6 linked regions of the Homo sapiens genome follow. The protein of the gene in region 6 purifies or fractionates together with the protein of the main gene of each other region. This does not show direct contact. Each region holds a gene or a part of one and is shown on either strand. Other genes may lie near its edges. The genes, in order: RBM6, TCTN3, RABL6, ZSCAN25, RSBN1L and TENT4B.

Evidence for each region.
Region 1: the proteins of TENT4B (region 6) and RBM6 purify together in Homo sapiens (affinity purification with mass spectrometry, with the first as the bait; one large-scale study listed by BioGRID). This does not show direct contact.
Region 2: the proteins of TENT4B (region 6) and TCTN3 purify together in Homo sapiens (affinity purification with mass spectrometry, with the first as the bait; one large-scale study listed by BioGRID). This does not show direct contact.
Region 3: the proteins of TENT4B (region 6) and RABL6 purify together in Homo sapiens (affinity purification with mass spectrometry, with the first as the bait; one large-scale study listed by BioGRID). This does not show direct contact.
Region 4: the proteins of TENT4B (region 6) and ZSCAN25 purify together in Homo sapiens (affinity purification with mass spectrometry, with the first as the bait; one large-scale study listed by BioGRID). This does not show direct contact.
Region 5: the proteins of TENT4B (region 6) and RSBN1L purify together in Homo sapiens (affinity purification with mass spectrometry, with the first as the bait; one large-scale study listed by BioGRID). This does not show direct contact.

What each region holds. Positions count from the first base shown.
Region 1 is NC_000003.12:50,054,518-50,059,422, reverse strand, and holds part of RBM6 (RNA-binding protein 6), read right to left. Parts: intron 1,696-4,905; coding exon 1,420-1,695; intron 1,022-1,419; coding exon 861-1,021; intron 1-860. UniProt on the Homo sapiens protein: Specifically binds poly(G) RNA homopolymers in vitro.
Region 2 is NC_000010.11:95,683,553-95,688,457, reverse strand, and holds part of TCTN3 (tectonic-3 isoform a precursor), read left to right. Parts: intron 1-738; coding exon 739-866; intron 867-1,102; coding exon 1,103-1,211; intron 1,212-1,298; coding exon 1,299-1,414; intron 1,415-1,927; coding exon 1,928-1,963; intron 1,964-2,821; coding exon 2,822-2,902; intron 2,903-3,833; coding exon 3,834-3,959; intron 3,960-4,828; coding exon 4,829-4,905.
Region 3 is NC_000009.12:136,813,514-136,818,418, reverse strand, and holds part of RABL6 (rab-like protein 6), read right to left. Parts: exon of another isoform or gene 4,793-4,905; intron 4,486-4,792; exon of another isoform or gene 4,244-4,485; intron 3,937-4,243; exon of another isoform or gene 3,869-3,936; intron 3,650-3,868; exon of another isoform or gene 2,888-3,649; intron 1-2,887. UniProt on the Homo sapiens protein: May enhance cellular proliferation. May reduce growth inhibitory activity of CDKN2A.
Region 4 is NC_000007.14:99,625,741-99,630,126, reverse strand, and holds part of ZSCAN25 (zinc finger and SCAN domain-containing protein 25), read right to left. Parts: intron 937-4,386; coding exon 107-936; 3' UTR 1-106. UniProt on the Homo sapiens protein: May be involved in transcriptional regulation.
Region 5 is NC_000007.14:77,747,835-77,752,739, reverse strand, and holds part of RSBN1L (lysine-specific demethylase RSBN1L), read right to left. Parts: intron 3,317-4,905; coding exon 2,676-3,316; intron 1-2,675. UniProt on the Homo sapiens protein: Lysine-specific demethylase that specifically demethylates methylated lysine residues of proteins.
Region 6 is NC_000016.10:50,158,861-50,163,765, reverse strand, and holds part of TENT4B (terminal nucleotidyltransferase 4B), read right to left. Parts: intron 1-4,905. UniProt on the Homo sapiens protein: Terminal nucleotidyltransferase that catalyzes preferentially the transfer of ATP and GTP on RNA 3' poly(A) tail creating a heterogeneous 3' poly(A) tail leading to mRNAs stabilization by protecting mRNAs from active deadenylation.

The sequences.
Region 1 (4,905 bases), on a different chromosome or scaffold from region 6:
ATAAACTTCAGAAATTCAAATCCTCTTCTTTTAGGTTGCAATTATCATCAATCAGATTCAGTTTACAAAGTCCCTTGTGACTTTTGAGCATGAAAAATCTAAGAAATACCAATGACTTTCATTATCTTCACCTTACTTCCATAGAAAAAGGCCCCGCAACTAAAAATTTAAGCCACAGGAATCTATAAATACTTTGAGGAAAAAGAGGAAATGTTTTATCATCAAATATAAAACCATCTGTGGCTGGACAAAATAAATCAGAAAGTTCACTAAAATCATGAAGGATTCAGTACTCAGATTCTTCACAAGCGAGTAAGTTGGAAACAGTAAATGACACAAGAAAAAAATGAACCTAGAAAACCAGACGGGATCCTAACTTTTGAGGGCTGTCACCTGACCTGAATGAACAATAAACCCAAAGGAGAGAGCAAGAGGGATTATGATATCAGGTAGCACACAAGAATTCAAATGATCAAGAAGTCCCTCAAATTTTTTTTTTTTTTTTTTGAGACAGAGTCTCGCTCTGTCACCCAGGCTGAAGTGCAGTGGCGCGATCTCGGCTCACTGCAAGCTCCGCCTCCGGAGTTCACGCCATTCTCCTGCCTCAGCCTCCCGAGTAGCTGCGACTACAGGCGCCTGCCACCACGCCCAGCTAATTTTTCTGTATTTTTTAGTAGAGACAGGGTTTCACCGTGTTAGCCAGGATGGTCTTGATTTCCTGACCTCGTGATCCACCCACCTCGGCCTCCCAAAGTGCTGGGATTACAGGCGTAAGCCACCAGGCCCGGCCCCCAGTCAAACCTTCTTGAAGGTTCTTTAGCCATCTGTCTCTAGGCCAATCCAAGGTGGAGGAAACTCACCGCATGGGAGTCGAGGTCAATAAAGCCATAGGTATGCCCCATAGGGCCTGTTCTGTTCTTGATGATACGGACGTTGGCAGTAGTAAGGCGGACATAGGGCTCCAGCACTTCCACTATCACCTCAGGTGGTGTGGAACGATAGATACGCTTTAGCATGATAGCTGAATCAACCATAAATGGGAGAAGGGCAACACAAGGGAGAGAAAGATAAATTTTTGAAGTCCCAAGAATCTGACTGTCATTTTTTACTATAGATGCTACTAGCAAGGCTGGTTCTGTAAAAAAATGCTAAACAAATAAATACTGCATACTTTTCTTCACCAATACTTAGAAATCTAAAATCATGCCTTACTGCATTCATATAGCAATTTACTATTTGAAGGGCATAGATTCCTTTAAGCAGTACAGGAAGGTCCACAGACAGCAATGGCCTCTGTCATCAGGTCATGCACAGATCTCTCAGGGTACTGGAAAGCAGATAGCTCCCGGACATAACATTGGCCATCTATGCTCCATTGTGATGATCACAGTCTGGTATGTGCCCTGACAAACTACTTACTTTTGCTCTCTCCATCCTGGCGTGTCTCTCCAGACCATGACTCCCTCTCTCGGTCTCTTCGGAAAGTTGGCCCTTCCCTTCGAGAAGGAGGCAGATACCTTTCTGCTTCTCTCTTTTGATGTCCTAAGCGTGACTCTTGGCCTTCTTCCCTCTTCCTGGGTTCAGGTTCCTTATCAGCTGGTCTTAGGGGCTGGTTGGGCTGTTTTTCCAATGGTGCTGGTATGGATGTTTTCTGAGGCTGAGGGTAGGTTATTAATTCTTGCTTGGCCTCTGTCACTAGTGGAACAGAAACAAAGAGAATCTCTAGAAAGCTTTATCAAAAAAAAAAAAAAAGAAAAAACACTGCTACTGTAATTTCTCCTTACCTGCCAGCAAATACTCATACTGGAATGCCTTTTTTTTTTTTTTTTTTTTTTGAGACGGAGTTTTGCTCTTGTTGCCCAGCTGAAGTGCAATGGCATGATCTTGGCTCACTGCAACCTCTGCCTCCCGGGTTCAAGCGATTCTCCTGCCTCAGCCTTCAGAGTAGCTGGGATCACAGGTGCCCACCACCACGCCCAGGTAATTTTTTGTATTTTTAGTAGAAACGAGGTTTCACCATGTTGGCCAGGCTGGTCTCGAACTCCTGACCTCAGGTGATCCACTTGCCTCGGCCTCCCAGAGTGCTGGGATTACAGGTGTGAGCAAACACGCCCGGCCTGGAATGCTTTTAATATTATCTCAGAAATATCTAATAAAAAGTCCTCTGACAGTTCCTGACAAAATATTTTAAGTGAAGCTGAGACAGGACATGAAATAGTTCACAGAAGAAACTATCCAAGCATTTAAAAAATGTAATCTTATGAAATCTCTATATCACCTACTAAACATTTAAATATAACAAATCCTTCATGACACCTTGAACCTGACTATCATAATCAATGATAACAACACATCTGGGGACAAAATTACCGAAGATATGGCCCTTACTTAAGGTTTAGTAGAAACACATATCCCAAACACACATCTAGAAGCCTTGCTTCTTCCAGTGTTACAGTGCTCAAACAGCTACTCATATCCTGTAAGACCACAGGCCCTCCTCCAGTGAAGCTAGGAACAGACCCTATCTGCACGTAGCTCCTTTATATGCAAATAAACATAATGGGCAGACGTCCTTCAAAATATAAATGATTTATTTCAAATGTCCTACTACAGCAGGATAATTTGTCTTTATAGTTTGTTTTATAATTAGGGGCACATTCTTGTAACTAATTCATTCTTGGAGGGTTCACTGGAATCCATGTGGCTCAAAAAGAGGTATTATATGAGAGCAATATAGAGATTACATAATAGCAGTGACAGGTTTCCAGATTAAAGCTGTCTCATCTTAGTGGTATGGTGCCCAGTGGTTTTCATACACTATCTATTCATGGCCGGGAGCGGTGGCTCACGCCTGTAATCCCAGCACATTGGGAGACTGAGGCGGGCAGATCACGAGGTCAGGAGATCGAGACCATCCTGGCTAACACAGTGAAACCCTGTCTCTACTGAAAATACAAAAAATTAGCTGGGCACGGTGGCGGGTGCCTGTAATCCCAGCTACTTGGGAGGCTGAGGCAGGAGAATGGCGTGAACCTGGGAGGCAGAGCTTGCAGTGAGCCGAGATTGCGCCACTGCACTTCAGCCTGGGTGACAGAGCAAGACTCCGTCTCAAAAAAAAAAAGAAAAAAAACAAAAAACTATCTATTCATTTGCTGGAATAGCTTTGAAAAAAAGTGTTTCTTGTGGGGGGAAAAAAACACAACTTTGCCTAACCTGAAGTGACCTAACAAGCAAAAATCTCAGTTGTTCATCCTCCTTCCCACATTTTGGTTTGGTTTCTAGAACATACACAGCCTTCCCCTAAAGATTTTCAGAACACCTGCCTTTCAGTCTTCACCAGAGTAAAATCTCCACAAGAGGACAAAAGCCCACCTAAGAAACTCCTTGTAGGCACATTAAACTCTAACCTTGCAACAAACAGAAGGCTACCTGAATCCCTGCACTGAACTATATTTTATGGTCATGCTGTGGCTTTCCTTAAGGGATGACTACAGGACTGTTGTTATGGATGCATGTGTCTGACTCTTCGAAGTTGCCTACCTGAAATTTCTCTAAAGAAATTTACATTAAAGATAAGTGCTTGAGAAGCTGGTAGTTTTATTCCTCTAAAATAATAAAATGTTCCCCACATCCTGATTATTTTCTCCTATTTATGTTTTTACTGTTATTTTAACAAATGTTTTTCTCTTGAAAATCCTGAAATGCTTACAGAATGTAAAAGAGAAAACAATAGAGCAAATGATTCCCAATAACTTCAAAGAAGTAGGAGTGGGAGAAAGGTTTGCCACACAGACTGATGTCATAAAGACTCTTTTTCAACCTAACATCCTTAATCCTTAAATGTATTCCAAATAACAATATACTGACCTCTGCTCAGCTGCCCACTTAGCCACTTTAGCCTAGGAGCCCACAACCCTATCTCTTTCCTCTGGTGAAAATAAGATCTGAAATCATTTACTAACAGGTTACGTTAAGTTGGGCACCAAACTGCAATTTTTTTTTTCTCACTCTGTTGCCTAGGCTGGAGTGCAGTGGCGAGATCTCAGCTCACTGCAACCTCTGACTCCTGGGTTCAAGCGATTCTAGTGTCTCAGCCTCCCAAGGAGCTGGGATTCCAAGCATGTGCCACCACACCTGTGGCTAATTTTTGTAATTTTAGTAGAGACAGGGTTTCGGCATGTTGGTCAGGCTGGTCTTGAACTCCTGACCACAGGTGATCCACCTGCCTTGGCCTCCCAAAGTGCTGGGATTACAAGCGTTAGCCACCATGCCTAGCTCAAATTGCACTTTTGAAAGGTTTGGGCCGGTCGTGGTGGTTCACGCCTGTAATCGCAGCACTTTGGGAGGCTGAGGCAGACAGATCACGAGGTCAGGAGATCGAGACCATCCTGGCTAACACGGTGAAACTCCGTCTCTACTAAAATACAAATAATTAGCTGGGCATGGTGGTGGGCGCCTATAGTCCCAGCTACTAGAGAGGCTGAGGCAGGAGAACAGCGTGAACCTGGGAGGCGGAGCTTGCAGTGATCCGAGATTGCGCCACTGCACTCCAGCCTGGGTGAGTACGAGACTCTGTCTCAAAAATAAATAAATAAATAAAGGTTTGCAGGCCTTGTGCAGTGATTCACACCTGTAATCCCAGCACTATGGGAGGCCAAGGTGGGTCGGGTCACAAGGTCAGGAGTTCAAGGCCAGCCTGACCAACATGGTGAAACCCCGTCTCTACTAAAAATACAAAAAAATTAGCCGGGCTACAGGGCGTGGTGGCACATGCCTGGAATCCCAGCTAATCAGGAGGCTAGGGCAGGGGAATCGCTTGAACCTGGGAGCTGGAGGTTGCAGTGAGCCAAGATGGTGCCACTGCACTCCAGCCTGGGCAACACAGCGAGACTCCATCTCAAAAAA
Region 2 (4,905 bases), on a different chromosome or scaffold from region 6:
ACATGAGCATTATCGAGCTTCCTATTTTCTTTTTTTTTCTTTTTTTTTTTTTTTTTTTTTCTTTTTTTTGACAGAGTTTCGCTCTTGTTGCCCAGGCTGGAGTGCAGTGGTGCGACCTCGGCTCACTGCAACCTCTGCCTCCCAGGTTCAAGCAATTCTTCTGCCTTAGCCTCCTGAGTAGCTGGGATTACAGGCGCCTGCCACCATGTCCGGCTAATTTTTTGTATTTTTAGTAGAGATGGGGTTTCAGTATGTTGGCCAGGCTGGTCTCGAACTCCTGACCTCAGGTGATCCACCTGCCTCGGCCTCCCAAAGTGCTGGGATTATAGGCCTGAGCCACCATGCCTGGCTGAGCTTCCTATTTTCATTACAAATTGCTGATCATACACATTCTTGACCATCAATGACTTGAAACTGACTGGCATTCATGACCATATTCTTATCTCAGATCTGCATATTAAAACAATAATTCAGTTAATAGATTGTGAATAAGAAGTGATGGAAATCAGAATTGTTATTTCTGGAGATGGAGTATTGATTGGGAGCCTTCTGGGGAAATATTCTGTAACTTGATCTGGATAGTGGTAATACAAGTATATAAATTTGTAAAAATTCTTTGAGTTTACACTTAAGATTTGCACCCTGTATATTATGCTTCAATAAAAATATTTTTTAAAATTAGTTACTTGGCATGTTTTTCTTTTATCTAAACGCTTTTTCTTTTAAAAAACATTTTAGCAAACTTAAACTATTTCCAGAAGCTTCAAAAGGTCAATGCAACCAACTTCCAGGCCCTGGCTGCAGAGTTTGGAGGCGAATCATTCACTTCAACATTCCAAACTCAATCACCACCATCTTTTTACAGGGTGAGCCTGGGGAAGGGGATGGGATTGTTTGGTTTAGTTTTTACTCTCACAGCAGACAGCTGACAAGGTAACTTTGCAGCACTACCCTGCAGCTAGCTAAACCATTGTCAGCTCTTTGGAGGGCAGTACTGTCCACGTAATCATGCCCTTGAGTTAACCTTGTTTCTACTCTTTCTTTTCTGTTGTAGTTTAGTCCAGTCTCACTGTGAACAAAGTTTCTTTTATATTTTATTCAGGCTGGGGACCCCATTCTTACTTACTTCCCCAAGTGGTCTGTAATAAGCTTGCTGAGACAACCTGCAGGAGTTGGAGCTGGGGGACTCTGTGCTGAAAGCAATCCTGCAGGTGAATCCAGAGCAAAAGTACCAACCTTTTCATTCAATTTAAAACAGGCTTTCTCATTTACCACTCTCTTAATTATTTGTGTTTAAGGTTTCCTAGAGAGTAAAAGTACAACTTGCACTCGTTTTTTCAAGAACCTGGCTAGTAGCTGTACCTTGGATTCAGCCCTCAATGCTGCCTCTTACTATAACTTCACAGTCTTAAAGGTAGGTGTCCTTTCTCTCCCTACACTGTCACTACTATGAAGTTGAAGTGAACATGCTTCTCACTGTTGTGGGTTGTGGAAAGAGCATTGAATAAAAGTCAGAATCCCCAGGAGCCACGTAAAAGACAGAGGGCCTGGAAACCACATCTGAAGACAAATGAAATAATTGGGGATATATATGCAGGATAAGAGATCATCACCCTTCTCACTAATGGGATTGGCTTGCGAGGGTGGAAGGGGGAAAACACCCATCTCACCAAACTTCTTGCTTTTGCTATTCAGTAGAGCCCTGTCAGAGTAAATAGGCATCACAGTCTGTCACCCTCCTGCCTGGCTCCACTTCCTGGCATTTTAGTGTAAAGAAGAGTCAGGTGGAATAGAGGAAGTAAATCATTCTAATATATTGACTCCCCTGCCCGCCAAACCAAAGCCTATTGGTAGTAATATGAAACCACAAGCTCCTGGTGATTTTTGGTAAGGTATATGCACATTCATGTCCCTGCTGTTCTCCTAGGTTCCAAGAAGCATGACTGATCCACAGAATATGGAGGTATGATGCTGTTGTACCAGGAAAAAAGAAAAAGAATATTTGGCTCCTCTGCATCTGAGGCAATTTTAGTCTAAGTTGTACTGTTGAAAGATAAATGTAAGCGTGATGTAGCAAACAATTAAGTAGGGATCTAAAACGGTGCCTTTGCAAGTACGTCCTATACAGTTAATAGCCTCGTATGAAACCAGGATCCATAAGGTGTTAGATAAGTTTGTAAACATTGGGTTAAATAAACTATATTTAGGGTGGGCTTCTTAATTTTTTTGAGAGACAGGGTCTTGCTCTGTCACCCAGGCTGAAGTGCAGTGGCACGGTCACAGTTCACTGCAGCCTAAACCTCCTGGGCTCAACTAATCCTTCTACCTCAGCCTCCCAAGTAGCTGGGACTATAGACGTGTGCCACCATGCCCAGCTAATTTTTTAATATTTTGTAGAGATGGGGATCTTGCTATGTTGTCCAGGCTGGTCTTGAACTCCTGACCTCAAGCAATTCTCCTGACTTGGCTTCCCAAAGTATTGGGATTATAGGCGTGAGCCATCTCACCCCTCCTGGAGTCTTTAATTTGCTAGAGGGCCTTATTAATCTCTAAGGGGAATACTGAATATAGTATTTCTAACAATTATTTGACTATGGAACCCTTGTTTTATATTTAATAGAACTAGTGTTCTGAGAAATAAGTTTTGAGAAGTGCTCGTTTAGAAAGACTTGAATTTAAGTTGTTGGCTGGCACTGGAAGAAGAGAGAGAGAGGGTGGTCAAGGGGAAGGAAAAATACTCATCTTAGCATGATATCTATTAATAGATACAAGACAAAATACCGCCTTCAGTTTTAGTTAATTTGCTTCTTTTCGTTGCTAGTTCCAGGTTCCTGTAATACTTACCTCACAGGCTAATGCTCCTCTGTTGGCTGGAAACACTTGTCAGAATGTAGTTTCTCAGGTAGGGATACTGACCTCAGATTCTGGACTGATGTGTGTTAATCAACACTGCCAGAGGTGCCTCATCTTCCATTAAGTATCAGACTGACCCAACTGAATTTTGTTTGCATTCTCTAACAATGTTGGGAATGCAAACTTGTTGTATTGGTAGATTCTTGGTTGCAATCCTTGGTAAAAGTAGCATATTGTGAATTTCAACAATTCCCAACAAGTTTGAAATTAAACTTGTCAATAATTGAGCCCATTATCCTCCCTACCACGTTTCAGTTATTTCCATCACCACCATCCTCCAGTATTTCAGGTCCAGGACATTAAAATTATTTCTGACACCTCTTCTGTTGCCCACTTGCAGTCTGTTACTGATTCTTACTGACTGACCACATTTTATTCTCTTGACACAGTATCATCTGAAACTCTGAAGTAGATTAATCAACTTGTATTCCTCTGTTCTCTAAACAATCTAACCTTAAAAAGTAAGAATTATCTTAAAGCATCTTCTTAAAGACTATGCTCAGAAATTTAAGGTTACTTTCAATTGCCTGCAACTTGTATCCCCAGCAATGATCTTTATTAATTCTCAAACATTGTGAGAGCCAAGTAAACCAGATTTCTGTTCCATGCTCACCTCTGCCTGTTTCTACTTGCCCTCCTCTGTCCGTAATCAACTTATTTTTCTTCCCTTTCAGTTCCTACCAAAAACTCACCTACCCGTGAACCCTTTTAAAGAGCTCTATCCAGTTTCTTTTTCATATACAAATATAATATGAAATCATCTTTATCTTTCATAGTATTTGTGTTTGGCATTTTTAACATTACTGTTTCAGTCTGCCTCATTTAGTTATAATAACACCCTTGAAGACAGAAAATCTTCTGTCCTAAACATATTCGGCCCAATAACTACTTTTTATTAATTGATTCTTTTTGCATTTCAGGTCACCTATGAGATAGAGACCAATGGGACTTTTGGAATCCAGAAAGTTTCTGTCAGTTTGGGACAAACCAACCTGACTGTTGAGCCAGGCGCTTCCTTACAGCAACACTTCATCCTTCGCTTCAGGGTTAGGGCCCTTCTCTTATAGGGGATTTAGAGGGGAAGAAATATTGGGTTAGAAATAATTTCTTTGCTTCTGTAATACATGTGAAATAGAATAAGAATATGAAGGCCTAGTTCAGTCTGTCGATTGAGGCCTCAACATTTAATATTCCATAATTTTACTACAAGTTGTGGTTATTCTACAAGTCTTTACTCATTAAAATTTTCTCCAATTCTCTGTCTGGCCCCCAACAAAGCAGGACTTCAATCTAAAATCAAAACTTTTTTTATAGTCATTTTGAATCATAAATTCAGCCAACACCTACAAAAATTCTTTAACTAGCTGTTCTCATATTTCTGGGCAGTCAGCATTTTACTCATTTCCCACTTAATCTGAGTGTTCACTCTTAATCACTGCCATTTGGCTTTCTGCTACTTCTTTCCTCTTTTTGAACCCAGCATAGATTTTCTCAACTCTACCCTCAGGTGATCAACCAACTGCTGTGTCTCTCAGAGCTCATCTCTGGAACATCTGTAGTTAATTAAAATATATATTTTTTAATTACATTTAAATTTTTCAGATTTTAACCAGGCTGTGTTATTATTGCTAAATTGCTAGTAATTTTTAAGGGATCCTTAGTAGATTCTTGGTTGTAATCCTTGGTAAAAGTAGCGTATTATGAATTTCAATATTCAGATCATGAAGGATTTATTTTAGTAAATTTAAAAAAGTGAAAGAAGCAAAATGCTACACTGTGGAAAGAAGCCAGATTGTTCAGTGTAGCTCACTTATTGCATTTCCTTGCCTTAAGGAAGGGTACGGTGAAGCCAAGCAGTGGGAGGTGGGAAAGTATGCTTATCTCCATAATTGACTTCTCTTCCCTCTTTCTGCAGGCTTTTCAACAGAGCACAGCTGCTTCTCTCACCAGTCCTAGAAGTGGGAATCCTGGCTATATAGTTGGGAAGCCACT
Region 3 (4,905 bases), on a different chromosome or scaffold from region 6:
TTGCTTACCTTTGGTTTTTTTTTTTTTTTTTTTTTTTTTTTTTTTTTTTTTTTTTTGAGACAGAGTCTGGTTTTGTTGCCCAGGCTGGAGTGCAGTGGTGGGATCTCGGCTCACTGCAAGCTCCGTCTCCTGGGTTCACGCCATTCTCCTGCCTCAGCCTCCTAAGTAGCTGGGACTACAGGCGCCCGCCACCACGCCCGTCTAATTTTTTGTATTTTTAGTAGAGACGAGGTTTCACTGTGTTAGCCAGGATGGTCTTGATCTCCTGACCTCGTGATCTGCCCGCCTCGGCCTCCCAAAGTGCTGGGATTACAGGCGTGAGCCACTGTGCCCGTCATTTTTTTTTTTTTTTTTTTTGAGATGGAGTCTTGTTCTGTTGCCCAGGCTGGAGTGCAGCGGCGCGATCTCAGCTCATTCCAACTTGTGCCTCCCGGGTTCACACGATTCTTGTGCCTCGGCCTCCTGAGTAGCTGGGATTACAGGCGCCTGCCCTCATGCCCGGCTAATTTTTGTGTTTTCAGTAGAGACAGCGTTTCACCATGTTGGCCAGGCTGGACTCAAACTCCTGACCTCAAGTGATCCACCTGCCTCAGCCTCGCAAAGTGCTGGAATTAGAAGTGTGAGCCAGCACCCGGCCCCCTTTGCTTTTTGAAATCCACTCCTGTGTTTCGAGCTCAACTCCACCTCTCTGAAGAATAACCTTCAGTATTTATTTCTAAAAGAGCCTTTGCACAGTGAGCCTCAAGCTTCGGCAGAAGTGGAGCCAGTCACACGGCTCTCAAGTGCTCATCAGACAGAGACCTCAGCCCACGTCGGCCTCCCCTCAGCCCACGTCGGCCTCCCCACAGCCCACGTCGGCCTCCCCTCAGCCCACGTCGGCCTCCCCACAGCCCACGTCGGCCTCCCCTCAGCCCACGTCGGCCTCCCCTCAGCCACAGGTTTGCTGCGAGCTGGTCACCAGTCCACTGCATGCTCCTCTCAGGGAAGTCTTTTTGTTCTGGTTGCATCTAAGATGTTTACTTTTTAATGTTTTGAAAATTTCCAATGATGTATCTAGCTGTGGATGTTTTTAAACTCTGGACTTCTTGGAGTTTCCTGTATTTCATGAACTCTGGAAAGTCCTCAGTCTTCCCTTTCTCCTTTCTTGCTCTCTTCTCCTTCTGGAACTTGTACTGGACATGGGCTGGCATCGCCTCCTCCCTGGGCCGCACATCTCTTCCCAACACTGCTCCTCTCTTCAGCTGAGTTAGTGCTGCTTCTCGTGCTGCTTCTCCTGCTGCTGACTGATTTAACGTTAATGACTATGTTTTTCATTTCTAGAGGTTTTCATTCTGTTTCTTTTTCAAACATAAACTGTCTGCTCATGGTTTTTTGTATTTATAATTGACATAATAATTGCACATATCATGGGCATACAGTCTTGACTAGTCTTAAGATTGCTTCCTTTTACATCTTTATCAATTTTAACATACATTTGTTTTCTATTATCTTCACATTTTGAGAATGAAGAGTCTTATTTTCTCTCCCTTGAAATGAAATTTACTCCTTTTAAAAGCTAATTACCCATATACACACCTACTATATGGCCACAAACTCTTTTTTAAAAAAGCTAATTACAAGAAATCCTGTAACATCAGAAATAAGGCAAGTAAAATAATCTGATTTAATTATTTTAAAAAATTACCCCCCCCCCCTTTTTTTTGAGACAGAGTCTCACTCTGTCACCCAGGCTGGAGTGCAGTGGCGCGATCTCGACCCACTGCAACCTCCACCTCCCAGGCTCAAGCAATTCTCCTGCCTCCGCCTCCTGAGTAGCTGGGATTACAGGCATGTGCCCATCACACCCAGCTAATTTTTGTTATTTTTAGTAGAGACAGGGTTTTGCCATGTTGGCCAGGCTGGTCTCAAACTCCTGACCTCAAGTGATCCACCAACCTCGGCCTCCCAAAGTGCTGGGATTACAGGAGTGAGGCACCATGCCCAACTTAACCTCTACTTTTAAGTTAAAAAGTTAGGCTGGTCGCAGTGGCTCTCTCCTGTAATGCCAGCACTTTGGGAGGCCAAGGCAGATGGATCGCTTGGGCCCAGGAGTTTGAGACCAGCCTGGGCAACATGGTGAAACACTGTCTCTACAAAAATTACAAAACTCAGCCAGGCATGGTGGCGTGCACCTGTAGTCCCAGCTACTCAGGAGGCTGAGGTGGGAAGATTGCTTGAGCCAGGGAGGTGAAGGCTGCAGTGAGTCAAGATTGCGCCACTGCACTCCAGTTCAGGCGAAAGAGCAAGACCCTAAATAAATAAAATCAATTTCAGAATCTTTTTTTTCTCCTGCTGGTCCCTTGATCTTGGGTTTTCTTTTTTTCTGCTTAACTTCAGAATCTTAAATGTTGGCTGCAATAAGCTAAGTGATTCTCCTGGAAAACCTTTAGGATTCATCCAAGAAACGCTAAGAAGCCCTGTACTTACCTGTACTTAACCTCATGGTAAACCTGCTCTTTTACTAAACGGGATGTGAACACGACCTCTGTTCTAAGCTTGTTTTAGAAGATACAATGCAGAAAACACAGAGCTCTATTTGAGGCCCTGAGCCTTTCTTACCCTGATTCAATTTAACTCCTTCACATTCCTGCAGCTTTCCTGCAAAATATGGAATAATTTTCTTACATTTTCATACCAAGAAGAGCTTATGATTTATCTCAGATGCATGAAGGTTTAACTCCTAACCAGGCCCTCTCACAGTGCCAGCAGCATCTCCTGGGCCCATTACAAGGGCCCAGCCACCTCCCCACCCTGACAGCCTGTGCTGCAGCTGGTGTCAGCCACACCTTGCTCCTCTCCCACTCTGCACCCTGCAAAGATTTCCCATCCTCAGCAGCTTCAGACTACTTGGTGTCGAGGCAGGTAAAAACCAAGGTGACCCCAAGAAAATGGCTGCTCCCCCAAAGGAGGCAGAAGGAGGAAGTGAAGATGAGGAAATGTCAGAAGATGAAGAAGATGACAGCTGTGGAGAAGAGACTGTCACACCTCAGGAGAAAGGCAAGAAGGCTGCTGCAACCCCAGCCAAGAAGGTGACAGTTTCCCGAACAAAAAAGGCTGCAGGTGCCACACCCACCAAGAAAGCAACTGTCACTCCAGGCAAAGCAGTCGCCACACCTGCCAAGAAGGGAGCCATAGCAGGCAAAGCACTGGCAGCAGCTCCTGGCAAGAAGGGACACCCCAGCCAAGGGGGCAAAGAACGGCAAGAACGCCAAGAAGGAAGACAGCGATGAGGAGGAGGATGACTCTGAACCAGCAGTGATGAAGGCAGCAGCGGGTGCCCCTGCCTCAGGGGATGAGGACGAGGACGATGAGGACGATGCTGAGGAAGATGGCTCTGAAGCAGCACCTATGGAAACAACACCAGCCAAAGGAAAGAAAGCTTCTACAAATGCTGTTCCTGGGAAAGCCAAGAGGATGGCTGGGAATGAAGATGAAGAGGATGATGAGGACAAGGACGAGGGTGACGATGATGAAGAGGATGAAGTGATGAAGACGACAAAGAGGAGGAAGGGTCTGTCAAAGAAGCACCTGGAAAATGAAGGAAATGACCAAACAGCAGCTTCTGAAGCCAAGAAACACAAAGTGGAGAGTGAGAAGCACAGAACCAACTGTGCCTTTTTTTTTTTTTTAAGACAGGGTCTCACTCTCTCGCCCAGGTTGGACTGCAGTGGCGCAATCTTGGCTCACTGCAACCTTCACCTGCCAGGCTCAAGTGATTCTCCTGCTTCAGCCTCCTGAGTAGCTGGGATTACAGGCGTGTACCACTACCACCCGGCTAATTTTTGTATTTTTAGTAGAGACGGGGTTTCACCATGTTGGCCAGGCTGGAACGTCTTTCAATCTTTGTTGGAAACCTGAACTTTAACAAGTCTGCTCCTGAGTTAAAAACTAGTATCCATGGGCCAGGCCTGGTGGCTCACGCCTGTAATCCCAGCACTTTGGGAGGCTGAGGTGGACAGATCACAAGGTCAGGAGTTTGAGACCAGCCTGGCCAACATAATGAAACCCTGTCTCTACTAAAAATACAAAAATTAGCCGGGCGTAGTGGTGCGTGCCTGTAGTCCCAGCTACTGGGGAGGCTGAGGCAGGAGAATCACTTGAACCCGGGAGGTGGAAGCTGCAGTGAGCACCATTGCACTCCAGCCTGGGTAACAGAGCAAGACCCTGTCTCGAAAAAGAAAGAAAAACAAAAACTAGTATCCATGATATTTTTGCTAAAAATGATCTTGCTGTTGTGGATGTCAGAATGGGTATGACAAGGAAATCTGACTATGTGGATTTTCAAGCTGCTGAAGACCTGGAAAGAGCCTTGGAACTCGCTGGTTTGAAAGACTTTGGCAATGAAATTAAACTAGAGAAACCAAAAGGAAAAGACAGTAAGAAAGAGCAAGATGTGAGAATACTTTTGGCTACAAATCTCCCTTACAAAGTCACTCAGGATGAATTACAAGTGTTTTGGCTGGGCGCAGTGGCGCAGTGGCTCACACCTGTAATCCCAGCACTTTGGGAGGCCAAGGCAGGCAGATCACGAGGTCAGGAGATCAAGACCATCCTGGCTAACACGGTGAAACCCTGTCTCTACTAAAAATACAAAAAATTAGCTGGGTGTGGTGACGGGTGCCTGTAGTCCCAGCTACTCGGGAGGCTGAGGCAGGAAAATGGCGCAAACTTGGGAGGTGGAGCTTGCAGTGAGCTGAGATCACGGCCACTGCACTCCAGCCTGGGCAACAGAGCGAGACTCTGGCTCAAAAAACAAAAAAGTGTTTGAAGATGCTGTGGAGATTGGATTAGTCAGCAAGGATGGGAAGAGTAAAGGGACTGCTTATATTGAGGTTAAGACAGAAGCTAATGCAGAGAAAACTTCTG
Region 4 (4,386 bases), on a different chromosome or scaffold from region 6:
GTGGGAAGGCGATGGGACCAGTGCTTTCCTGCAGCCATCACCTTGCACCCCGCAAGGCCCTGCAGTGAGAAAGATGAATGATGGTGCTGCCTGCCACCTGCTATGCTCACTGCACCAGCGGCTCCTGGCGGTGCTGGGTCTTCTGGTGCCGGTTGAGGATGGACCTCTGGTTGAAGCTTCGCCCGCAGGCAGGACAGTGGTAGGGCTTCTCCCCTGTATGGATTCTCTGGTGTCGGACCAGCCGCTCCCCTTTGCTGAACCGCTTCCCGCACACCTGGCACCCATATGGCTTCTCGCCAGTGTGGGCACGCCGGTGCACCGCCAGATTGGCATTCCTGCTGAAGCTCTTGCCACACTCGCAGGTGTAGGGCTTCTCCCCGGTGTGCGTCCTCCGGTGCACCTGCAGGTGCTGCCTGCGGCTGAAGCTCTTCCAGCAGTCCCCGCACTTGTAGGGCTTCTCCCCAGTGTGGCTGCGCTGGTGCACCTCCAGGTGGTGTCTCTGGCTGAAGGTTTTCCAGCACTCGCTGCACACGTAGGGCCTCTTTCCCAGGTGGGTTCTCTGGTGCTTCATCAGGTATTCTCTCAGGGTAAAGCCCTTCCCACACTCCACACAGCCATAAGACTTCTCTTCGTGGGTTCGCTGGTGCCTGACGAGATTGGAGCTCCGACTGAATCCTTTCCCACACTCAGGGCACTGGAAAGGCTTCCAGAAGGAGCTGTGGGTTTTGACTTCGTCAGGCAGGGGGATGGCACCGTGCTGGGGAGGAGGAAGCCCAGGCGCACTGCCTGCAGGGCCACCAGGCTCCTGCTCACAGACCCTTCCGAGCCCAGGGCCCTGGAGAGAGGCTTCCCCAAACCTCTCTGATGTCAGTGCCACCAGCGCCCCTTTCAGGTCTTCCTGTGGGGGTTTTGCCTCCTTTTCCTTGCTCCCACCGCCTACAGGACAGGAGGAGATAAAGATTGATTCTGTGGTAGCCGCAGGACATTTACATGTTAGAACTCTGCTTCACAGGGGTCCCATTCATGGTTCCTTCTCTTTTTTCCTTTGACCAACAACCTCAACTCAGGCTTTCCTTACTTCTTTTTCCTTATTTCCACCTCCATGTCTTTTTACAGAATAGTCTGCCAAATTCCAGTGCCCGCCCACTTATCTTGCTGCTAATCTAGACCTTTACTTCTTACAAAATGTAGCTCAATAATTTCCTCTAAGACACTCACCACGATTATTCTCTTACTCTGGGCCTCTTCAGCACTGTGCACCTAACTAGCACTTTATTATTCTGTACCTATTTACATGTGACTTTGTTGGAAATGCTGTTTCCATTCATCCAGATGTCCTGCGCCTTCCCCAAACGATTCTACACCTGCTGTAGCACAGGGCAGCACACAGCTCTCCAGACCTTCCAGGTGCCTGCTCAGTCCCCTGTCCTGCCCACATGCTCCCTCTGCCTAACCAGGTTCATTCATCTGGGTCTCCTAGGAGCCTGGCAGGGGACTGACTCAGGGAAGATGCTTGCTAACTGCTGGCTGAATGAATGAAGCAGGCTTCACTGAGGCTCCTGCAGGAGAACGCCCCTAGGTAGCATATTTATCAGGACTGAGACCATGACGCTGCTGAAATGCTCAGCTTCACCCTTCCTTCATCCTCACTCTGATCCTTCTTATATTCTCTCTAAATTAACGGAACAGGTGTTTATGGAAGAGTAACAGAAAGGGGAGGAGAAAAAAAGAAAAGAAAAGGTATTGGGGAACAAAGAGGCAAAGAGAAAAAAAGAAAAGGAGAAATAAGTGGTGCTTAAAGCGGAAGAGTCCTTTTAGGCAAGATGACTAGAAGACAAAAAAAACCTGACAGTATATGCCTCCTGGTTTGATAAAATATGAAATACATACTTATCAGCTTGGATTTTGTTTTGTAAACTTTTCATGAAAATAAAAGTGTACAAGCCATTTATGTTTTGTACACGCAAAGATTTTATTTTTATTTTTTTGGATCCAGCGCTGGCTAAAAAATGTCACGTTACCCTTTTTTTCCTTTTTGTGGAGATGGGGGCCTCACTATGTTGCCCAGGCTGGTCTCGAATTCCTGGGCTCAAGTGACCCTCCTGCCTCTGCCTCACTGAGTGCTGGGATTACAGGTGTGCGTCACCACACACTATGCAAAGAATTTTCTTAACGAACCCAACCACGTAAACAGCATTCAGTTCAACAAACAGAACATAACCAGTCCCTAGAAGCCCCTTTTACATCTCCTCCATCACTATACCCTGCATATATATACTATACATATACAGTATATACATATACAGCATATACATGTATACAGTATATACAATATACATATACAGCATATACGAGATATACGTATACAGCATATACGATATACGTATACAGCATATACGAGATATACGTATACAGCATATACGAGATATACGTATACAGCATATACATGATATACGTATATAGTATACATATATACTATACCAACGGGAACACATTGTCTGGACTTTTTTGCCTGTTCTTGAACTTCAGGTAATTGTCTCACACATTGTTTCTGGCTTCTTCTACTCAATATCATGTTTGTGACGTTCACCTATATCATGGTGTGAAGCTGTAGTTTATTCTTTTTCATTGGTATACAGTATTCCACTGAGTATATGTATGTGTGTGTGTGTATGTATATATAGATAGATATACAGATACAGATAGACTGCAACCTACTTATTAATTTGACTGTTGTTCATTTGGGTAGTTTTCAGTTTTGAGGTGTTATGAATAGTAAGATTAAAACTAAATGCAATGCACAAACCACAACTAGATCTTGGGGAAAGCTGACTATGCACTAGATGTTACATATATCGAATTTATGTTTATTTTCTTAGATGAAATTATGCTACTGGGCTATGTTGGGAATGTCATTGTTAGACAAATGCTGAAGTATTTACAAATGAAAGATTGAGATGCCTCCAACTTCCATATCATTCCAAAACAAAACACACATTATACAGCTAAATATGGCAAATGTTAACAATTGGTGAATGTAGATAAAGACCTAAGTGTGTTCCCTGTACTAGTCTTAGCTTTTCTGTATGTTTGAAAATTTGTATAATAAGAGTTCAAAATATAAAGCTGGGGGAAAAATAAATACAATGATACCTAAGTATAAACAGAGACACTGGGAGAAAGACACAGTAGTGGAAGAGAAGGGACCTAGCAGTGAGAAACCCGTTTTGAGTGCTGCACTGGCTGCTCAATTGCTGTGTGATCATGGGAAAATCAATTAACCTCTCTGAGCCTTACATTCACCACCTTCAAAATGGATTGTACACTCATGAAGTTTACTGCACACATGGAGCAGGAATGCAATGGTTCATGATATTATTTTAACTCCCAGACCATGTACCTGACTTGCAGCTACTTCCAGGGACCATCCACTTAGATCTCAAAGTCAACAAATGGAACTTTCCATTCTTCCTCCCTCTTAGGAAAATGCTTCCCTCTCTTTCTGACAGTAGTAACATAATTTTTCCAGGCCCTTAGCCAGGATCCTAAGACGTAGACTCCTCTCTGACTCTTCTCTTTCCTCCCCTCTGGCCAATCTGTGGCCCATCCTTGGAAGCATATTTCAGTAAACCCCCTTCTACATGACCACTGGCCTGGTTCCTGCTCTTACCCCAGTGCCTACACTATTTCAACCCTCCAGACTGGCCGTACCCTGCCGTCAATCCAATTTTCCTCAAGTAAAACCTCCATCACATTACTCTGCGCAGAAAAAATTTTTAAACAAGGACCCAGAGTCCTCACGGACTCCTCAGCGGCCTCACTCTACTCACTCCTGCCTCCTCCTTACTCCTCTGAGCACTCATCTTTCACTCCAGGACCCTCACCATCCTGGGAACCAGCCTGCAGAGTCCTGCATTCAGGTTTCTGCACCTGCTACTTTTTGCCTCTGTGATTCCAAATCCTGTTGTGAGTTCTTGCTCCAGTCCTTGTGGACATTACTGCAATTACAACCCAGACAACAAGGTCTGCACCTCACCGTCTGCTAATGAGAACAGACGAACAACTGGAAGTGATCTGGGCAGCCACCTAGCTCAACCCTGCCCTGTGCATTCAGTCTCTTTACAGGTGAAGCAGCTCAGGCCCAGCCCCAAGCAGCTGTCAGTACAAGCACCAGGACAACCCGAGTGTGAATCCCAGGAAGACCTGAAAGCTGGGACAGCAAGTGAATGGTACACTTGGGAAACAGGCCTTCGTGTCACCTGGCGGCAGAAATGTTCAGGTATGGGCTTGAGTTGCTCTGAGTTCTGAGACACTGAGCTGGTGAGGGGACAAGGACAGAACCAGTCTCCAGAACAGTCAGAAATGGCCAGGAGAGCATGAAAATCT
Region 5 (4,905 bases), on a different chromosome or scaffold from region 6:
TTTTTAAAATCATGGGTGTGTTCCCTGTGAAGATTCATCAAGTTATACATTTATAATATGTATACTATGTCATACATTACACTTCAATAAAAAGTTTACTAAATAAAATCAACTCCTGGAGGGACACTTCAATGTAGGCTGAGAGAGCTTTAACTGGGAGGACTCCAGGGATGAGAAATAGAACTGTGCAAGAAGAAGCATGCTCATTTTTCTCCTACTGCTCTCTCTTCTGGATCCCATTCAGTTTCATAAAGCCAGTGCCTAAGGACAAATCAAAGGCTACCTCCCCAATCTGCACACAACAACTTCCCCACTCACAGGAATAAGATCTGAAGAATCTTGTGATAAAAGGAATACGGGCCTTGCACATGTACTTTCCTGCCTTTAAGTCTAAAGCTAAAGAAGCAAAAGTAGTCCCTGCAGCTGACATGCTTAGGTCACCAGGGTAGCAGATCACACAGATATGGGGCCAGAACCACAACTGGTAAAAAACAGGATCCATCTGCCTGGAGTTTCCTCTTTGCAATATATATTACCCAAGAAGCCCGAAGACATGGTGACAACCAGAGGAGGTGGCTCATCAAGGACTTGAGATCCACATCCCAGGCACACACTGCCATGATTAACAAGTCCAGCATCTCATTTTATTTAGTAACAAAAGCAGTTTTCATGGTGTACATATTAGATAGTTTAGATGAAAATTTTTATCATTTAGTATAAAATAATTCCTAAACTTATTTGAAAAACCATCTGAAAAGCATGTAATGTGATGCACATCAATGTACTGTCACATTTAAAAGGTTACTGAAGCAAACTTGCATAGTATCAAAGCAAGAAAGTTTGTGGTATTGTGGAAATAACCGGGAATGGGAGCCAAGAGGCCCAATAGAAAACCGGACATTTAGGAGACATGCAATAAACGACAAATGAATGATAAGGTGATAAGGCACTTTGAACATGTTATCTCTTCTCTCACTGGATCTGTTTCTTCACTGCTAAAGTAAGATTATAATGAGGATTAAATGAGTTACTACATATAAAATACTCAGAACAACTAGTCCTTGGCACAGTCAGTACTCAATAAATAGTAAACACTATTATTAGATGCCAGTCCTGATTCTGCCATTATATTCAGGTGTAACCTCAGACAAGTAACTCACCATTTTGGGTTTCTATAAAATGACAGGGCTAGTAATGGATGCTCTATAGCTCCCTATCTAGTTTAGAAAATATTTAATTTTCAATTCTCAAACATGTTAGAGAATAATTCCCACATACGCACATTAAAAATTATTTTCCAGGCCGGGCGAGGTGGCTCACGCCTGTAATCCCCACACTTTGGGAGGCCAAGGCAGGCAGGTCACTTGAGGTCAGGAGTTCGAGACCACCCTGGCCAACATAGCGAAACCCTGTCTCTACCAAAAATACAAAAATTAGCCAGGCATGGTGGTGCATGTCTGTAATTCCAGCTACTTGGGAGGCTGAATCAGGAGAATCGCTTGAACCCGGAAGGCAGAGGTTGCAGTGAGCCAAGGTCGCACCACTGCACTCCAGTCTGACTCCATCTCAAAAAACAAAAAACAAAAAAACACCACATTATTTTCCAGACTACAATCTACTACAGAATATACACCAAACATACTCATACTATTGGGGGCGGGGTACATGTGGATGTGACTGAACATCCAGACTACCATTTAAAGTGGAAACTATAACTTGAGCACCCATCCAAAAAGGAACATATTCAGAATAAGGAAAGGAGCCCTGGATGAAGATTAAGATTTTGTTCTAATCCTGACACTGCTGACAATGTTAAACAATACCTTACTCCTCTCTCTCTACGTCTGTTTACTTATTTGTAAATTGAGAGGTGTTGGGATAAATAATCACTAAGATCCATTTGAGACTTCCTTTACTTTTTCCCTCCTTCCAAACTAGAATGTTGTCCTAGAAACCAAAAACCGTTCCTAGAAAACCAAAAACTACAGCATCAATAAATGTGAGAACTGGCCAATCTCCAGACTAAACAGTCCCAATCTGAGGATGGGTGATAATGGCACCAGCCTTTCAGATGGGCCCACACTGATGTTCAAGACCCAGCAGACTCTATTCTGTCTGCTTTCCAGAATAATATATATTCTCCACCATAGAGAAGGGTAGGAAATGAAAATTAGCTCAATATACTGATTGCTACTTTTAACACATCATTACACAGTAACTGATGATTCCTTCATACCACAATATTTTTAATGGCCAACATTTCTTCAGTACCTACCATGTGATGGGCCTGGTGCTAAGTACCTTAAAGCATCCTAAAGCTAGAAGACAATTTTAGGTGATTTCCAGGTAAGAAAACTATTTAAGGACTGGAAAATACATGGCTAAATTCATTTCCTTAGGTTCAAGACCACTCCTTGCAAAAAAAAAAAAAAAAAAAAAAAAACACAGAATCTTAATTATTTCATTAATTGTCTTTAAAAAAAAACATACATAAGTGAAAATTGAATTTTAAATTCTGATGCTCACATCAAGAAAGTAATTTACTCTTAATACTCCCAAATGGTTTCATTATATTCTTACCTTTTTATTTCAGCCCTATAATTAGGAACAAAAAACAGAAACTCATCTAAAAATATATAATTAAAAGTTATTTTATAAAACTAAAAACCTCTTACCTGAGCATGAAAATTGGACATAGTCGTTGTCTCTATATCTTTCTTTCCCAATATCTCCATTTTCACTGGTGAATTGGGAAAATTAAATGAAAAATAGTCTAAAAAGTCAGGTAAATAAGTAGCTGCCCCATGAACAATACCCATCACGTAGAAAGCTGCAGAGTTTTCATTTTCACTGAACACTAGACCCACAAACTCTTCTGCAAACCTCTCCATCTCCATAGGAGACAGGTGGGAGAGTTCGTTACTGTAGGCATGGATAACCGATGCACCTCCATTAGGCTGGTGCTCTATATGAATGAGTTGTTTAAATTCCAAAGTGTCCAACCTTTTGAGGTTATTCTGAACTCGTGGCTCCTTTAATGAGACAAATGGAAACTCACTGTTCTCTGGAATTTTGGAATCATAGTTCTTGGTATCCAAATTCTTCCCAACGTAATCTTTTATGTTATCATTTAGGATGCCTTTGGCTGCTTGATCTTCAACATCAGTTAGCAATCCTGAGCAGATGGTCTGAATAGATTTGCTATACATTTTCGGACGCTTCCGTTTTTCATTCTCTTTGTGTTTCTTTTTCTTTTTCTTCTTTACCTTTTTAATTTGTAAGTCTTCTATATTTGTTTTTGGTTTCTCCTTCCCACCTGTTGGAAAAAATGTTTTTTGAAACTCCATATTTTAATTACTTTAAAAACCATGCTTTAGGAACAGTTTTGTCTAAGTAAGAAGTTTACTTCTGAAAATTTACTCAGAATTATATATTTAGGACTCATTTTTTACAGAATTGATAATCAATATTTAGTCAGCCTTTTTTGAGACAGAGTCTTGCTCTGTCGCCCAGGCTGGAATCCAGTGCCACAATCCTGTCTCACTGCAAACTCCACCTCCTGGGTTCAAGCAATTCTCCTGCCTCAGTCTCCCAAGTAGCTGGGATTACAGGAGCGCGTCACCATGCCCAGCTAATTCTTGTGTTTTTAGAAGAGACAAGGTTTCACCATGTTGGCCAGGCTGGTCTCAAACTCCTGACCTCGTGATCTGCCCGCTTCGGCCTCCCGAAGTGCTGGGATTACAGGCGTGAGCCACCACACCCAGCCAGCCAGTCTCTTCATGTACACAGCGAGAGAGAGACAGAGAGAGAGAGAGAAAGAGAGAGACAGACAGACAGACAGACGGGCATAGAGCAAAGTTACATCTACAGTGTGTGCTACCATTCTGACATATAGCAAATGCTCACAGTTTACAGAAATAAGGAGATGAATGAATATTTTAGAAAACAATCTTCAGGCCAGGCGCAGTGGCTCATGCCTGTAATCCCAGCACTTTGGGAGGCCGAGGTGAGTGGATTGCTTGAGGTCAGGAGTTCGAGACCACCCCGCCCAAGAGAGCAAAACCCCATCTCTACTAAAAACACAAAAATTAGCTGGGCATGGTGGTGAGCACCTGTAATCCCAGCTACCCGGGAGGCTGAGGCAGGAGAATTGCTTGAACTGAGAGGCAGATTGCAGTGAGCCAAGATCGTGCCACTGCACTCCAGCCTGGGTGACACAGCGAAACCCTATCCCAAAAAGAAAAAAATAAAGAAAAAAAGAATCATCTATGCCTAGTGTCTTTCCTTTACCACCTTATCATTCTTACTGCTTAAATTCTGGTTCTGTTTTCAATCTGTTTAAATTTGCTTTCCCAGAATGTTGAAATATCAAATCCAGTCATATTTACTCAAGTCATTTTTTCTGGTGTCTCCGTGATTTGACAGAATTATCCAGCTCATCCTTGATTACTTCTGAATTCCTTGATGCCACTGTCTTAATTTTTGGTCTAACAGCTGCATAACTGTCTCTCATCCTGAATGCTACAGCCATATTAACCTTTCTATAATTTTTATGTATTCTTTTGATCATATTCATTCCTTAGCTAAACTGCTTTCAAGAGCTCTCAATGTCTACCTATAATCTCTTCAGTCTGGAATCCAAAGACAGTGCCCTCAAGTACCTCATACTCTGGTCAAACTGAACTATTTATTTACAATTTCTTATAAAACATAACTCTACTGGCAAAGGTATTTCCTCTCCTTAAAATACACTTCACTTGCTCATTATTTACAAATGAACTCTTTTCTATCCATTTGATGTGACTGAAAGTTTCCTGAGCTCCCCCCCGAGAAGCTGAGCAGATGCCAGCATCATGCTTCCTGTACAGCCTGTAGAACCATGAGCCAATTAAACCTCTTTTCTTT
Region 6 (4,905 bases):
ATATATATATAAAAACACTAAAAAGTCAAAAAATATTTACATCAAACTGTTAACAGAAATTATATCAGGCCGGGCGCGGTGGCTCATGCCTGTAATCCCAGTACTTTGGGAGGCCGAGGCAGGTGGATCACAAGATCAGGAGATCAAGACCATCCTGGCTAACACAGTGAAACCCCGTCTCTACTAAAAATACAAAAAATAAGCCGGGTGTGGTGGCGGGCGCCTGTAGTCCCAGCTACTCGGGAGGATGAGGCAGGAGAATGGCGTGAACCCAGGAGGCAGAGCTTGCAGTGAGCCGAGATGGTGGGCGACAGAGCGAGACTCCATCTCAAAAAAAAAAAAAAAAAAGAAATTATATCCTGGTAGTGATATTACAGGGGTTATTTTTCTTCCTTTATTTCAGCTATATTTAGGGACAGTAGTATAAACACCCCAAACAAACAAGAAAGTAAAGGGTGAATAACTTCAAAGAACAAGGACACTAAAATTTCCAAACTTATCACTAGTACTTTATTAAGTCCAAGTTCCTGGAAATTAGCCAAAAGTCACCTAATTATAGAATTAAAACACAATCCTATGTATTCTTATTCTTGCTTTGGCAGGAATGTACAATACCTGACAGTGCTAAGAGTTAAGTTACTTTCACAAAATCAAAACAGTGACTACAAAGGGCCAGTAAGGGAAAACTAAGGGACTAAGTCCCAATTCTCAGGTCACAAAGCTGTTTAGATAAAACAATTTATTCTAGGATAGATTTGAAGATCAAGTATCTATTCTATAGAGTCTAAAGGTATTATTCAGGTATAAAAATACTGTAAGAAAACTTTACCACCACCAACAACAAACCACTAACCACAGGTTTACTCCCTAAAATATAGCCAAGCCAACAGACTATAAAATATCCTCATATGAAAAGACAGGACTCTCAATTTTGAAATAAACCCCACAGTTTTACTTTTTTATGTTTTTAGAAAACGAGGCTAAAGATCTACTTCATGCTAGTAACTAGTTTCTAAGAAAAAGCAACATGTAAAGGAAACACTGAAAATTACTTCAAAGACAAAAAAAAGTTAAAATGTTACTGCTAAGAGTAAAACCAAAGAAAAACTGGAAAATTAAAGCCTTTCAAGTCACAATTTTAGAGATTTTTCATTGAGAAAGTTCAATACTGCCAAGATGTTTTAAAATAAAAAAAGTTAAGATTAGATGAGGCTATTTTTATTGATTAATATAAGGCAAAACAGGCTATCACTACACATATTAGAACCGCTCAAATAAAAAAGTGGTAACACTAAATGCTAGCAAGGATGCAGAGAAACTGGATATCTCATATATTGTTGATAGGAATATAAGAGGATATAGTCATTCTAGAAAATAAATAGTTCAGCAGTTTCTCTAAAAACCAAACATGCACTTACCATACAATCCAAACATTTGGGCATTTATTCCCCCAAAATGAAAACTTTATATTCACATAAAAATATTTATATACATGAATGTTTATAGCAGCTTTATTTGCAATAGCCAAAAAACTGGAAACCACCCTTCTGGTATGTCCTTCAATAAGTAAATGGTTAAACAAATTGTGTGGTTCAGCCATACTATGGACTACTACTCAATAGTAAAAAGAAATGAACTACTGATACATGCAGCAATTTGGATGGCTCTCAAAGGAAGTATGGTAAAAGAAAAAAAGCCAAAGTTACATTCTGTATGATTCCATTTATATAACATTCTCAAAATGGCAAAATTACAGAGATGCAAACAGATTAGTGGTTGCTGGAAGGGTGCGTGCGGCTATAAAGTGGTAGCATAGGGAGCCCTGAGGTGATGGAGTAGCTCTGTATATAGAACTATAGACTGTTACAGTGGCTATCCAGATCTACACATGATAAAATTGCATACAATTATATATATACACACACACACAAATACATGTGAAACTGGTGAAATCTAAAAAAGGCTTATGGATTGCAACGATGACAATTTCCTGGTTCTTGACATTAAATTATCGTTATGTGAGCTACTACCATTAGGTGAAACTTGGTGAAGGGAACATGGGCTCTGTACTATTTTTCACAACTTCCTATAAATCTGTAATTATTTCAAAATAGAAAGTAAAAAAATTAGTAGGGCTATGTATGAGGAGGTTAATATAATAACAAATGGAAAAGGTTTAGCATAGCATTTGAAACACGGTAATAAAGGCTTCCATTTTATTGAAACTTTTATTACATTAATTTGAAAACACAGGTTTCCGCACTAAATATATACAACTATTTCAGCAAAAAGCATGACTTGAGCTAGAATTCCTTAATTTAATTACCAAATACTATGTGAAATCTCTTGTGCACATGGTTAAGATTGTTTTAAGACTTAAAATTGTCCAAGTGAATAGGGAACCAGTACACAACATAAATGGCTCAACATTCAGCTTTTTTCCCAAAAATCTTTAACTCAAATGTCTTTTTACATCATCAAGTAACTTATCAGATGGAAATAAATGTATCATCTGCTGTGTGATTCCAAATTAAGGAAAGTCTAACTCAAAGCCATCCTCAACTTGAATATATATAATCTCTTACAAAAAAACAATTACGTGTAATCTTAAGAATAGTGAAACAAACTCAAAGCCTTTTTGGCATTCCACAGCAGCTGAGTCCCTACCAAATATTCTGGGGTGGAAAGAACATTCTACTGGCCATCCTCTGAATTCCTCAGCAGACTCTAGGCTGTCCAGTCAGCTCTGTAGGAAACAGCAAATACCAGGTGCTGGTAACTAGTCTCTAATTCTTCAAAAAAGCATTATCTTTGGCCTACAGCCCCTTCAAGATTACTCTATACCTATGTGTGTGTAAGTGATTAATACAGTCTCTAGTGTTGTGGGTGTGATCCTGAAATAGTTTCCACCACTAAATGTTACTCTTAACAGAGTCAACAAAAGAGAGAATAGAAAGCTGTGTGAAATCATACAAAAGCTTGATTTTCTACTTTCCACAGGAAAAAAAATTACTTTAATTTTCTCAGCTTCAGCAGGTGCAAGAATATCTAACCACTGCCATGACGTCTATACCCTTCCTGTGATATTCAGTATACAGGTTATCTGAGAACAAGTGAGAACCATCTGATCAGTTCCGTATCACCAACGGAGCCCTTAAATTCTGTTCCCATGGACCCTTCTGTACTTCTAACACTATGATTTGTTGGCAGGAATTTCACGGAAGAAATTGAGATGTAAGGCCATCTGGCATGCCAGGATCAGAATTTTTCTAATACACACCCCCGTTCCTGACTTAGAATTTTCTAGTATCCCTTTCCCATCCTATCTTTCCTGTAATGTAGTAAGCCTTTTGTGTGACCACTGGGTAGACAGACTCCAAAAAGTCACTCACCGTTTCCTTTGCTTTTCAATAGTTAAAACTTTATGAGTGTTAAAAAAGAGTCCACAAAGACGAAGGGGGAAAAAAAAAGTCCAAACACTGAAATGCCAATGATTAATGGTGACAGTATTCAATGATCACAGATTTTGGATAAAAGATGGAAGTTGTGGAATGAAAGTTAAGTTAGCGGCCGGGCGCAGTGGCTCATGTCTGTAATCCTAGCACTGTGGGAGGCCAAGGCAGGCAGATCATTTGAGTCAGGAGTCCAAGACCAGCCTGGCCAACACGGCGAAACCCCGTCTCTACTAAAAATACAAAAATTAGCCGGTGTGGTGGCGGGTGCCTGTAATCCCAGCTACTCAGGAGGCTGAGGCAGGAAAATCACTTGAACCCAGGAGTGTTGAAGTTGCAGTAAGCCAAGATCACGCCACTGCACTCCAGCCTGGGTGGCATAGCAAGACTCCGTCTCAAAAAACAAAAACAAAACAAAACAAAAAAAACAAAGAAAGTTAAGTTAGTTGAACACAGTATACTAAATTTTGAGACATTCTTAAATATGAATTATATTGTTAGTGTACAATCTACACTATAGAAAACCTAATGTCTTCTTAAAAGCGCATGTCAGTACCCAAATCAGTAAAATTCAATAACCTGAAGGTTCTAGTTCACTAAGAATTACTGTGGGCTATATCTGCAAATGCACAGAAATTAAATAGAGCACAAATCACTTGGAAAAAGGCCTCTAAATTCTTTCATATTCAATCTACTTTAATCTGTCTGATTGCTTTGGAGCCCAGCAGTAACACCAATCTCATTGGTAACACTGTGTAGAAATAAGCAGAGAGAGGCCGGGCGCGGTGGCTCATGCCTGTAATCCCAGCACTTTGGGCGGCCGAGGCAGGTAGATCACCTGATGTTGGGAGTTTGACACCAGCCTGACCAACATGGAGAAACCCCATCTCTACTAAAGATACAAAATTAGGCATGGTGGCACATGCCTGTAATCCCAGCTACTTGGGAGGCTGAGGCAGGAGAATTGCTTGAACCCGGGAGTCAGAGGTTGCAATGAGCCAAGATCGCGCCACTGCACTCCAACCTGGGCAACACAAGTGAAACTCCGTCTAAAAAAAAAAAAAAAACAGAAAGAGAGAGAGAGGGAGGGAGCGAGAGCGAGAGAGAGAGAGAAAGAGAAGCAGATATAAGCCCTAATGCAGTGCTGAAAAAAGGCATGAACATCTTGGGCTTACTATGACATGATGAACAATGGGCACTAGAGGATGGCACATACAAGAGGATACTGCCCTACGGCAGTGAAGAGCACTACATCTCAGCCCTCCAAATCTCAGCTCCCCACTAGCAGGTCCACCTATACATCCCCCTACTATCTTCTTACCCAAACCAATAGTCCTTCTGGCCCTTATTTCCAAAAACACCACAAATATTTCCCCAGTCACTCAAGTTCAAAGCTACAGTGTGATTATTAAATCCACTTAAGGAATCTGAATCATCTCCATCCTTACCCTGT